3 linked regions of the Homo sapiens genome follow. The protein of the gene in region 3 interacts with the protein of the main gene of each other region in a pairwise test. Each region holds a gene or a part of one and is shown on either strand. Other genes may lie near its edges.

Evidence for each region.
Region 1: the proteins of DSCAM (region 3) and METAP1 interact in a two-hybrid assay, tested with the Homo sapiens proteins (one large-scale study listed by BioGRID and IntAct).
Region 2: the proteins of DSCAM (region 3) and KDM4C interact in a two-hybrid assay, tested with the Homo sapiens proteins (one large-scale study listed by BioGRID and IntAct).

What each region holds. Positions count from the first base shown.
Region 1 is NC_000004.12:99,037,113-99,040,767, reverse strand, and holds part of METAP1 (methionine aminopeptidase 1), read right to left. Parts: intron 3,644-3,655; exon of another isoform or gene 2,827-3,643; intron 1,395-2,826; coding exon 1,303-1,394; intron 1-1,302. UniProt on the Homo sapiens protein: Cotranslationally removes the N-terminal methionine from nascent proteins. The N-terminal methionine is often cleaved when the second residue in the primary sequence is small and uncharged (Met-Ala-, Cys, Gly, Pro, Ser, Thr, or Val).
Region 2 is NC_000009.12:6,988,393-6,992,047, reverse strand, and holds part of KDM4C (lysine-specific demethylase 4C), read right to left. Parts: intron 1,633-3,655; coding exon 1,524-1,632; intron 1-1,523.
Region 3 is NC_000021.9:40,074,036-40,077,690, forward strand, and holds part of DSCAM (cell adhesion molecule DSCAM isoform CHD2-42 precursor), read right to left. Parts: intron 1,179-3,655; coding exon 1,002-1,178; intron 1-1,001. UniProt on the Homo sapiens protein: Cell adhesion molecule that plays a role in neuronal self-avoidance. Promotes repulsion between specific neuronal processes of either the same cell or the same subtype of cells.

The sequences.
Region 1 (3,655 bases), on a different chromosome or scaffold from region 3:
GTAGTCTTCTCTCATTTCTATAATGGGGAAAAGTAGAGGAAAAGAAAAAAGAACAGATGAGCCTGGGCAACATAGTGAGATCCTGTCTCTTAAAAAAAAAAAAAAAAAAAGTAGTCAGGTGTAGTGGCACATGCCTGTGATCCCAGCTACTCAGGAGGCTGAGGTGGAAGGATAGCTTGAGCCCAGGAGTTTGGAGTTACAGTAAGCTATGAGCTATGATCTATATGATCTATGATTGTGCCACTGTACTCTAGCCTGAGTGATAGCAAGACCCTGTCTCAAAAAAAAAAAAATAGATGAATGAATTCCTCAAAGAATCACAGCAAGTCATAGGAAGAGAAAGTTCTCCAGGATATCAAACAAAATTAGAATCAAATCACTTTTAAAGCACTGAATAGAAACCTTAAGAATCTTACTTAAATGAATAATATCAATGTATTATATTTTCCTTCAGAATAAATATGTGATTTCACCTAATGAGTACCAACCACTACTACCACTCATCATAGGTATTTCACAAAAAGGCCTACAGCATAACCCTCTGAGCCTTAAACTCTGTCCTATGTTATGATGACTTGTGAAAATAAAATGACAAAATGTTTTTAAATATCATTAAATAAATGAAAAGGATTGTCATCTAAATATAGACTATCCACCAGATTAATTCTGAAATAGGCTTTTAAGAAGAAAACTGTTGACTAAAATTATATACTAACAATAGTTTAATGAAAAGCATGGCTAAACCGGGCACAATGGCTCACGCCTGTAATCCCAGCACTGTGGGAGGCCGAGGCGGGCAGATCACCTTACGTCAGGAGTTAGAGACCAGCCTGGCCAACATGGTGAAACCCTGTATCTACTAAAAATACAAAAAAAGGCCAGGTGTGGTGGCTCACGCCTGTAATCCCAGCATTTTGGGAGGCCAAGGTGGGCAGATCACGAGGTCAGGAGTTCGAGACCAGCCTGGGCAACATGGTGAAACCCCATCTCTACTAAAAATACAAAAATTAGCCAGGTGTGGTGGTGGGCACCTGTAATCCCAGCTACTCAGGAGGCTGAGGCAGAAGAATCGCTTGAAAACAGAAGGTGGAGGTTGCAGTGAGCAGAGATCACGCCACTGCACTCCAGCCTGGGCGACAGAGTGAAACTCTGTCTCAAAAAAAAGTTAAAAAAAAAAAAAAAGCATGGCTGGTCAGTCTAACAATATAACATTTGCTATCTTTATAAATCAGCAAACCACTGACTTCATGTCTAAGTACTGCTTAAACATTTCCTACCCCATGGAGAAAAAATCACTCTTACCCTACATACAAGTCGCATCCCTTCTATATCTTCAGATGAGAGTAATTTAATCTGAGAAGTACCTTTAAGAGCCTGTTCAGATTCAGACATTCCTGGAATGAAAATTCGGTAAGTAAAACCAAAATGAATGCAAAGATGTAGTATTTATTTGCATAATTATAAACCTGTGGCATAAAAACAGTAGTCTCACTGTTTCACACAACAGTAATTCATGATTTGGGATGGTCTAGGTTAGATTTTTAAAAAAAAACATTTTCAACATCAAAGGGAAACTCGCTAAACCAACTGAAGAAAAAATTCTAAAAGATAAATTTTCAGACCTATTAGAAATCAGCCAATACTTATAGAGTACTTATTATATGCCAGGCCGTGTGATAATCAGACTCAGTAAATGATATACATTTGAAAAGTACCACAGAATTTACAAATTACTTTCATAATCATCTCATGAAGCAATTATACATCAACAACTGATGAATTAATTACACTATTTTCTGAAACAGGAACCAAAGTTAAGTGTTTTTCAATCTCCAGTTTGTGACCTTTTATTAGGCTACACTTAACATTTTTTAAAAGTAAATAAATGGGACAGAAAATATTAAAATGGCATAACAAAGTATTATACTCGTATTATACGGAGTAGGAATAAGTGCTGCCATGAAATCTTTATTTATATACACATACAAAGATCACGTTATAAAAGCCATTTCTGAGTCATACTCAAAAAAGTTTTAAAAATATTGCCCTAAAAATCTTCACTAATAAAATTTGTTAGCTTCAAGTTTTACATACATGAAAAGTAATAAAGCCAGGATAGCAATTAACTCAAAATCTAACAAAAATAATGTCAACTAATCTTATTTACAAGTACTAATGGAAAAATTCCAAATAAAAATATTAACAAACAGAATCCAAAAAAACTTAATACATCAGGATGCAAGTGAGATTCATACCAGAAGGCAAGGATAGTTCAATACTGACAAATCTATTCATCCAATTCATCATTCATAAATAAAGTAAAAGTAAATAATCATCTAGAAGGAAAGTTAATTCTGATAACATGGCCAGCTACCACCTTGACATGATAAATATAAATCTCAAACTGAGAACCAACATTACAGAATGCCCACTATCGGCACTATTATTTAACACTGTCCTGGCAATACTAGCAGATGCAATTAAACAAGAGAAAGAAATAAAACATATAAAACTAGAAAAGAAAGGACAAAATTCTTATCAATTTCAGATGTGATTATGTATCTCTAGAACAGAAGAATCACCTGGTAAATGACCATAAATACAAATTCAGCAAGTTGGCATATTGTTTAAGATAAATTTATCAAAATCAATAACTTTCCCACATACAAATAATCAGCTAAAAAATACAGAAGCTATTATGTACAAAAACAACTAAAAAGATGAAGTACCCAGGAATAAATTTAACAATAAAATCCCTACATGAAGAAAATCTGAAAACACCACTGAAAGACATAAAAGGAGTCAAATAAAACTTTAAAAACATACCCTGTTCCTGGACAGGAAGACTCAATATTGTAAAGATGTCAATTCTTCCAAAATTAATCTATAAATTTAATACTATCCCAATAAAAAAATGTCAACAGGATAATTTTGAGAACCAGACAAGCTGATTCTAAATTTCACATGGAAAAACAAACATGCAAGAATAGCCAGGAAAATTCTGAAAAAGAGGAAAGGTAGGGGCAACAAGGCCTACCAAATATTAAACATTATATAGCTATGATAATTAAAAGTTTGGCAGTGGTACATGATTAGACAAATGGGTTAATAAAACAGAATAGAATCCAGAAATAGACCTAAAGACATGTGAGAACATAATACAACAATATAGGTTGCACTTCAAATCAATAAGGAAAGGCTGATTTTTTAAATAACTGGTGATATAATAACCAGGTATCCTTCTGAGAAAAAAAATTAAGTTGCATCCCTATTTAACTCCTTATGCCAAGTAAGTTTCAGATATACAAATGATTTTTATCATACATAAAAAAGACTGAAACCATAAAAATGCTAGAAGAAAACATAGGAATATTTTTTTATAACTTCTGCACCAAAAAGGTCTTTCTAGGTCATAGAGCCATACACACTGTAAAATAAAACACTGATAAATTTTACTATGTTAGGATACTCAAAATCTGTAATAAATGTAATGACAAAACAAACGGTCAATTGGTAAAAAACAGTTTTAAAAACATACATCAAAAGGTTATTTTCGTTAATATACTAAGAACATTTATAAATCAATATGGAAAAAACTAGTACTCTAACAGGGAAAAAAAGGCTAAGGATATGAATAAACATTTCAAAAGGGAAG
Region 2 (3,655 bases), on a different chromosome or scaffold from region 3:
TGGGTATAATAAAGTAGCAAAAAAAAAAGAAAAAGAACTCAACATTATGATATATGGAAATCAATGCAAATATGTTTCATTACTTCTATTACTTGAATCAGAATTCAACCCTGGATTGGTTTCATACAAACTACTATGATCCCTAATCCCTACATTCATGATATTTTTACTTTTTTATGATACAGGGTCTCCCCAAGTTGCCCAGGCTGGTCTTAAACTCCTGAGCTCAAGCAATGCTCCCACCTCTGCTTCCCAGGCAGCTGGGACTGCAGGAGTCAGCCACTATGCCCTGCCATGATCTTGTTTTCTAACTAAACATGGGACATAAGTGAAAAGTGAGTGAAAGGGGGAAAAAATCTGTGAAAGATATCTACCTACTCTGATAAATTTATTTAAACAAGAAACTTGAGCTTCTTGTTACTCACTTAACAGTATTCTCACAGACACATGACCTTAGGTAATAATTTCCATAAGTAAAACTGGAGAATACTTCAGAGAAGGACTCTTAACAGAAAACCTGCCTGAATTAATCCTCTAAACACAGAAAAAATAAGGCCTTCATGATGCTAGGAGACATATACAAGACACTTACGAATCAGGGATCTGATTTTTAATTTGAGGCAACAAAAATTTCTTTTTTATAAAAGAAAGGTGAGAAGGGTAACCAGGCATGCAGTGGCTAATGCTTATAATCTCAGCACTTTGCGGGGCTGAGGCAGGAGAAATGCTTGAGCTCAGGAGTTCAAGACTAGCCTGGGCAATAGCAAAACCCATCTCTACAAAAAAAAATTTTTTTTTTAAATTAACCAAGCATGATGGTGCATGCTTGTGGTCCCAGCTGCTTGGGAGGCTGAGGTAGGAGGATCACTTAGGCCTGGGAGGTTGAGGCTGCAGTGAGCCGTGATCACCCTCCACTGCACTCCAGCATGAATAACAGAGCGAGACCCTGTCTTGAAAAAAGAACAAAAGGGGGAAAAAGATAAATTTACATCTAGGAATGGTAAATGATTGTAAATGAAACTGCGTTACATCCAGCTGCATCACAGCGATCTAGTGAAGGAAAAAGGATGTTTCACCCCACACCAGTTACAAAAGGATATGGAAAAGGATATGGCACATAGACTTTTACTGAAGGTGGTTAAATTAATGTAAAGAGTTGAAGTTAAAAGTAAAGACAATGTAAAGAAACCTACAGCACGTTAACTCTAAAATCTAACACCTTTAGAGAAATGAGTCTCAGCTTCTTCTGTAGAACCCTAAAACATGTCAAGGCTGACTGATTTTACCCCATGACATAAAACTGGAAGACTTTTACCAGTAATAAGGCTAGCTTATATGAAGTACGTCTTTACCTCTAAGTTCCAAATTCCTTTTACCTGTAAATTATTTATTATGTATGATCTCCTAATAGTACGTATTTGCTACTTGTTGAATTTTTTTTCTATTCAGCAATTTTTTTTACAATAGTTTGTTTTACACACCAAAAAAAAAAAAAAAAATCCCAAAAAGGGTCACCATCTCACCTTCATCACTTGGCGCCTGCTGCTTCACAAGAGTCATCGGAGATCTTGCTGGAGGCCTGCTAAGTGGATGGCGCCAACTCTTAGAGGTTTTGTTCTCTCCCTCTGCTATCTAGTTATAGAACAAAAATGGTGGAGAAATACCATTATCAAAAACAAACTACAAAAAAAAAAAACCCTACAGTTCACAATTATTTATCACTTAATGTTGAAGAAATCTTGTGGTTGTTTACCTCTTGGGGAACTAGTCCTTTAAGAAATTTAAACTTAAGGTCAAAAGAAATAGGAATCAATTCTATTAGTAATTTTAGCCAGAGGTCAATTAATTCTTCTTCCACTTTGTATTAAAATACAAGCTGTAGGGCAGGGTAGGCTTATTAAACCTGCAATAAGCTCAGCAGTTAACAAGTTTTCTAAAGTTCTTACAACTAATGTAAATTTAGGATTATAGGCCAGGCACAGTGGCTCATGCCTGTAATCTCAGCATTTTGGGAGGCCAAGGTGAAGGGATCCCTTGAGCCCAGGAGCTTGAGACTAGCCTGGGCAACATAGGGAGACTCTGTGTCAATAATTTAAAAAAAAAAAAATAGCCAGGTATAGAGGCATATGCCTGTGGTCCCAGGTCCTCAGGAGGCTAAGGTGGGAGGATCCCTTGAGCCCAGGAGGTGGAGGCTGCAATGAGCCAAGATCAAGCCACTGCACAACAGCCTGGGTGACAGGGCAAGACCCTGTCGCCAAAAATAAATAAGTAAATCTAAGATTGCATTCTCATAAAAATACAGGACTGTGGCTCTTGGTCACCTCTAAGATGTTCCCATGTTAACATTTAGCAAGGAATTTTATTTTCTATCCTCACAGAGAAGACAATACTGCAACACTTCTTTCCATTCAGAAATGAATCACCACTTCTAGATCACATAAATAACAATTAAACAAGAAACCAAAAGTATTCTCTTTTTTTAATGATACATTAATGCCATGTTGAAACCACTTAAATTTTACCAATGATTTTTTTGTCCTGGGATTTACAGACTATATATTCCTTTCCCGGGTAGAAAGTCATGTGTATCCTTACACCTTCCAGCTAGGACCCACCTTTTAAGCTCTCTTGCTCGCACAACGCAAAATTTTTAAAGGCAGGGGGAAGGGAAAGAGGATATCAGAGAGAGTTTGAACCCAGCAAGCTTACATCAAGAGTTGACTATGAAAGAAAACAATCTTAGTCTTCTTCCCGGTAAGCTGAAGAAGCAGTGGCCAGATATAGGGAAACTACTCTGGCCTCTGACTCCAACACATGATTCTAAGAAAATGTGTAAGACCATTGTAATCAAAGCTAGGAATAAGAAAAGAATGACAAATGCAATATACGATGACAGCTATCTATGTTTATAATAGCTAAAAAACAATATGGGAAATTATAACACAGCCAAGAAGACATATCAACACACTACTATGCACCATACCGTTGTCATAGCTGGAGCTATAGCAGGAAAAATTACATCAGGTTTCTGCTCTCAAGAAGTGTAGATTATAGAGGGGTAAGGGAATACATAATAAATGAATAAGTCGTATTTATCAAATACTACTCGGTAAATATGTAACGAAGGAAAATAAAGAAGGACAAAGGAATAGAAAGTGATGGGGAGGGGGCAGTTTTATAGGGTAATCAGAGAAGGCCTTTCTGATACAGTGATACTTGAGGGGAACTTTGAGTGCATACATATGATTATCTGGGGGAGGAGCATCTGGGGGAGCAAGAATAGCACGTAAAGTGAGAACATACTCGGTGTGTTCCAGGTACAGCTTTGAGCCCAAGATGAATGGATGGATGGATGGATGGATGGATGGATGGATGGATGGATGGATGGATGGCTTTAAAAAATAACATAATACTTATTGAGTAGATCAGCTAATGCCAGCAGCTATCAGCATACACATAGCATTACACTGAATACTAAAAAAAACTGACCAAAACTACACAAAAATTAAGTGGGGCTGTATTACATCTAGGAGTTATCCAACACCATGGTGTAAGAAAAGGATGTCATGCAGTTGTTCTTACAGGCAAGCCAAGCCTCTCAGCCTTCAATAGCAATGTTGGTTTCTCTACTGTCAGTCTTTGCTTGGGGAAATGA
Region 3 (3,655 bases):
GTGCTTTGGATAAGTGAAGACAGGTGAAAATATTACCATGTTCTCTGCTCTAAGTGGATTATGGTCAAATTAAGTATTTACAGAAGAGGTCAACGTTTTCTAAATGTATCAGTAAAGTTTGGGATATGTTTTGAGGAGAGAGTGCTTCCAGATTTGTACTTTGAACATAACTTTGAAACACACATAGGATGCTGCATAGCAGTATCCCACACTGCACTGATATTAAAATGAAAATCCCTTGTAATACACGTTACCGAAAAAGTGGCTTAGTTAAACACCCTCACTGGTAAAGGGCAAAGGACCTGGGAACACGTCTGCACAGTTTCATATTTGAAATAACTCCCTGTCCTCACATTGCAGAGCAAGGGCAAGTAAGGGCTCTTGGCCAGAAGCTGAGAACAGCCTCATCACAGAACGACACGGGGCTGGACATTATAATCATGGTGTCTGTTCACAATGGAGCTCATCTGGCCTGGCTTCTCCAGCCTTCATTATGTTTTTGCTACATTAGAGTGAAACTCTTACACTGGGCTTCAGCTCCCGTTTCTAATTTGGGATGGCATGTGTCCTCTGCCTCACAATGCTTCACCAGTATCCTAAGCCCTCAATTTCCACTTCCAGTCAGTCAAGTAATTCTCATTCCCAGAGCAAATCTGATAGATCTTTTCATAGAAAGCCACAATTGGTGGCTTTGCTGGACCCACTGAAAATTTAAGAGACTAGAGTTAAAAAATTAATTTTCCTTGCATACCAACAGCTAGGATTTAGGGGACAGGTTGGCTTTCACCTGATTTCTGACCGAGATAGGAACATTCTTATTGCTCTTCCCTGAGGCTCTGCAGTCTCGCTGAAGGAATGTCAGAGAACCAGGCAGTGGAGGGACCTGGGTTAAAGAGGGAAGAGTCACTCCCTTTTGAGGTTTGTTCTCCAGCTGGCATCTCTCCCATTGGCTGCAGAGCAGCAGGGGACACGCGTAGGTGGACAGCTGGGCCTGGACCTACCTCGCAGCCTCTTTAGCCTCTGCTCCCGCCGCCTCCTCCGCACAACCAGCAGGAGCACAAACAGCAGCAAGACCCCCACCAGGATACAGGAGATGGTCACCAGCATCTTGAGCCCCTCGTTGGTCGTCAGCCCTTCTTCGTTTTGGACAACTGACTTAATGAGTGGAGGAATTGTACCTGAAAGCAGGGCCACGGTGTTAGATGGCTATTAATGAAGACGGCATGGCGGAGCTTTTAGGGATGACAGGTTATAAAAATCGCGCTGTGTGATCCAAGGGTGTTGGAGGTGATGAGAAATGAAAAGAACTCTGTCTCTAGGCCCTGGCTAACTTTTTTTCTTATTTATTTCCCTCCCTCTGCCTGAACTTCCAACTTATTCTATAGTGCACGTTTGAAAAGGACTTCATTTTGCAATGCACTACAGTGTGCAGGCACTTGAAAGCATGAGGCCCAGGCTTGGTGCTGACAAAAGCCACATGCATCTACCCAGAATTAAGTGTTCCCTTGACTGTCACCCACAGTACAATTGATAGAGACTATTCGAAAAAATTGCACATCAAAGAATGAACAAAAGGTTGGGCAAATGGACAGAAGCGCGTGTGCAGGGAGAGGGTCCTAGATACACTGGCATAAAGAAACTCAAATCCCTTGTGATTAGGTAATTTGCTGGCTTTTATCGCAGGTGTAAGACCAAATCTACTTCAACAGCTGTGGTTTGAGGGTACAAGAGCTACAGACAGCTTTTCAAAGGGGACCCAACTAGGTTTCTAAAGGAGCCTACTTTTGATCAGGCATGGTTAAATAGTGCTACAAAATCTAGATTATTTCGAGTAATAAGGAAACACTGAAGGAAGATGAACTCTGAGCTATCTTAAGCTGCCTTCTATCCAGATGCTCAGTACCGTGGGTGCAGAGATCTAAACACAGGCATCCACTTTTTATGAGGTATATATTTTGCTACCCTCCATTATATAAGATGCTCCACGCCACTGCACTTTCCATGTACAACAAGGGCCAGAAAGTCAGCACTTCAGGAAAAGAGAATGCAAAAATAATATAATTTCTCCCTCAGCAAAACGGTCTTTATCCTGCATTTAGTAAGCAGAGCAGGGATAATGGAATCCTCGTTCCTCTGTGATCTCTGCTAAAGCTGAGAAGAGTGTTCTCCCAACTTTAAAGTGTTTTTGTGGAAGCCCAAGTCTCCAAATGCTTAGAAATTCAGGAAAGAGGCACTTACAGGATGCCCATGAAGAGGGGTCTGCAAAACCAAGACAACACTAGGTCAAGCAGAAACATTCGGCTAAGGAAATGGCAGAAGAAAGAGTGAGATCATTAAATGGAGGACTCTGAAACCTGAGTGGTATGAATGTAGGCTGCCAATCTTGGCTTTCTCAAGATAACAAAGTTCTTCAGGCAGATGTGACAATAGAGGCTATCCATTCATGAGACTGGTCCAAAGAAATCTGTAATCTCTCTCAAGGAAAATATAAATATGCAGCCATATTTCTTAGTGTAATAAAGTGATTTCATATTTCCAAAACGTAAAGGTAGCTTGCAGCATTTTTCAAAATTTGGGATCTTGGATAAAGTGAGAAAATTATATCTTTTCTTAGAAGACAAACATTTAAAATCCGCAGAACACTTTGTGAATTAGAATCACAGTTTCAAATTCTACACATGAGTAGTTTCTAATTAAATCATTAGCTGTGAGCATATCATCAGTGTGCACATTTAAGCTGGGTGCCCAGGCATCTGCACATATTATAGAGAAGCTGGGAACCAGAGTGTGAATATTGCAAGATAATGATCTAAAGTAAAAAAGATACTTACTACTCAAATGTGTGCTGGTTAACAGAGGATTTTGGTGCACCCTTAAATGCTAAGTAAAGTGTCTGGTAAGTGTCAAAGTTCTTTATTTTGTAAGATCAAATAATTCAACCATATTACAGGGAGAGGCCAGCTTGGAAGTGCTCCTCTGCCTCTGGGTGATGCTTTGTGATGGGGACACCTTTGAATGAAGTCACTGAAGAGTGAGGGCTATAAAATTAGAAAGAGGCAGCCCATGAAAAGCATCAGCCCTTGAAGAGAAAAGTTGTCGTCTGGGAGGGCATAGGCTATTCTGGGGCCATAGGACAGAGCCCGTGCAGAGGCCAGGGACCCCGGCTAGCGTAACCAACACTAGAAGAGCTTTCTACAAGCTCAAGGTCTTCCTACAGCCCTGAGACCCAGGCCAGAAGTGCCAGGAAGACCCTGGACTCTGGCAGAGAAGGATGTTGTGGAAAAATGACCTTGGACAGGAGATTTGGGGTAGGTCTGCTCTGTGTGCCAAAGCAAGAAGAGCCAGCCCTGGGCCATCCGGACATTATAGGAGAAATTGGTCCGATGAAAATCCCAGGCAATGTCACCTCATTAGCTCCTGGTGGTCATTTCTGTGGGTCCTTAGGTTCACAGCCACTCTTCTTAGGATGGCATAAACTGTGCTCCAAGGAGCTACCTGCTGGAGCTTTAATAAAGCGGCCTCCCAAATGCACAAAGTAAAGAAAGAATCACTCTCCTAGAGAGCAATGCTGATGCTTTTCATGGGCTGCCTCTGTCTAATTTTACAGCCCTCAGTTATGAGTGACTTCATTGAAAGGCATCCCCTCACAAAGCAT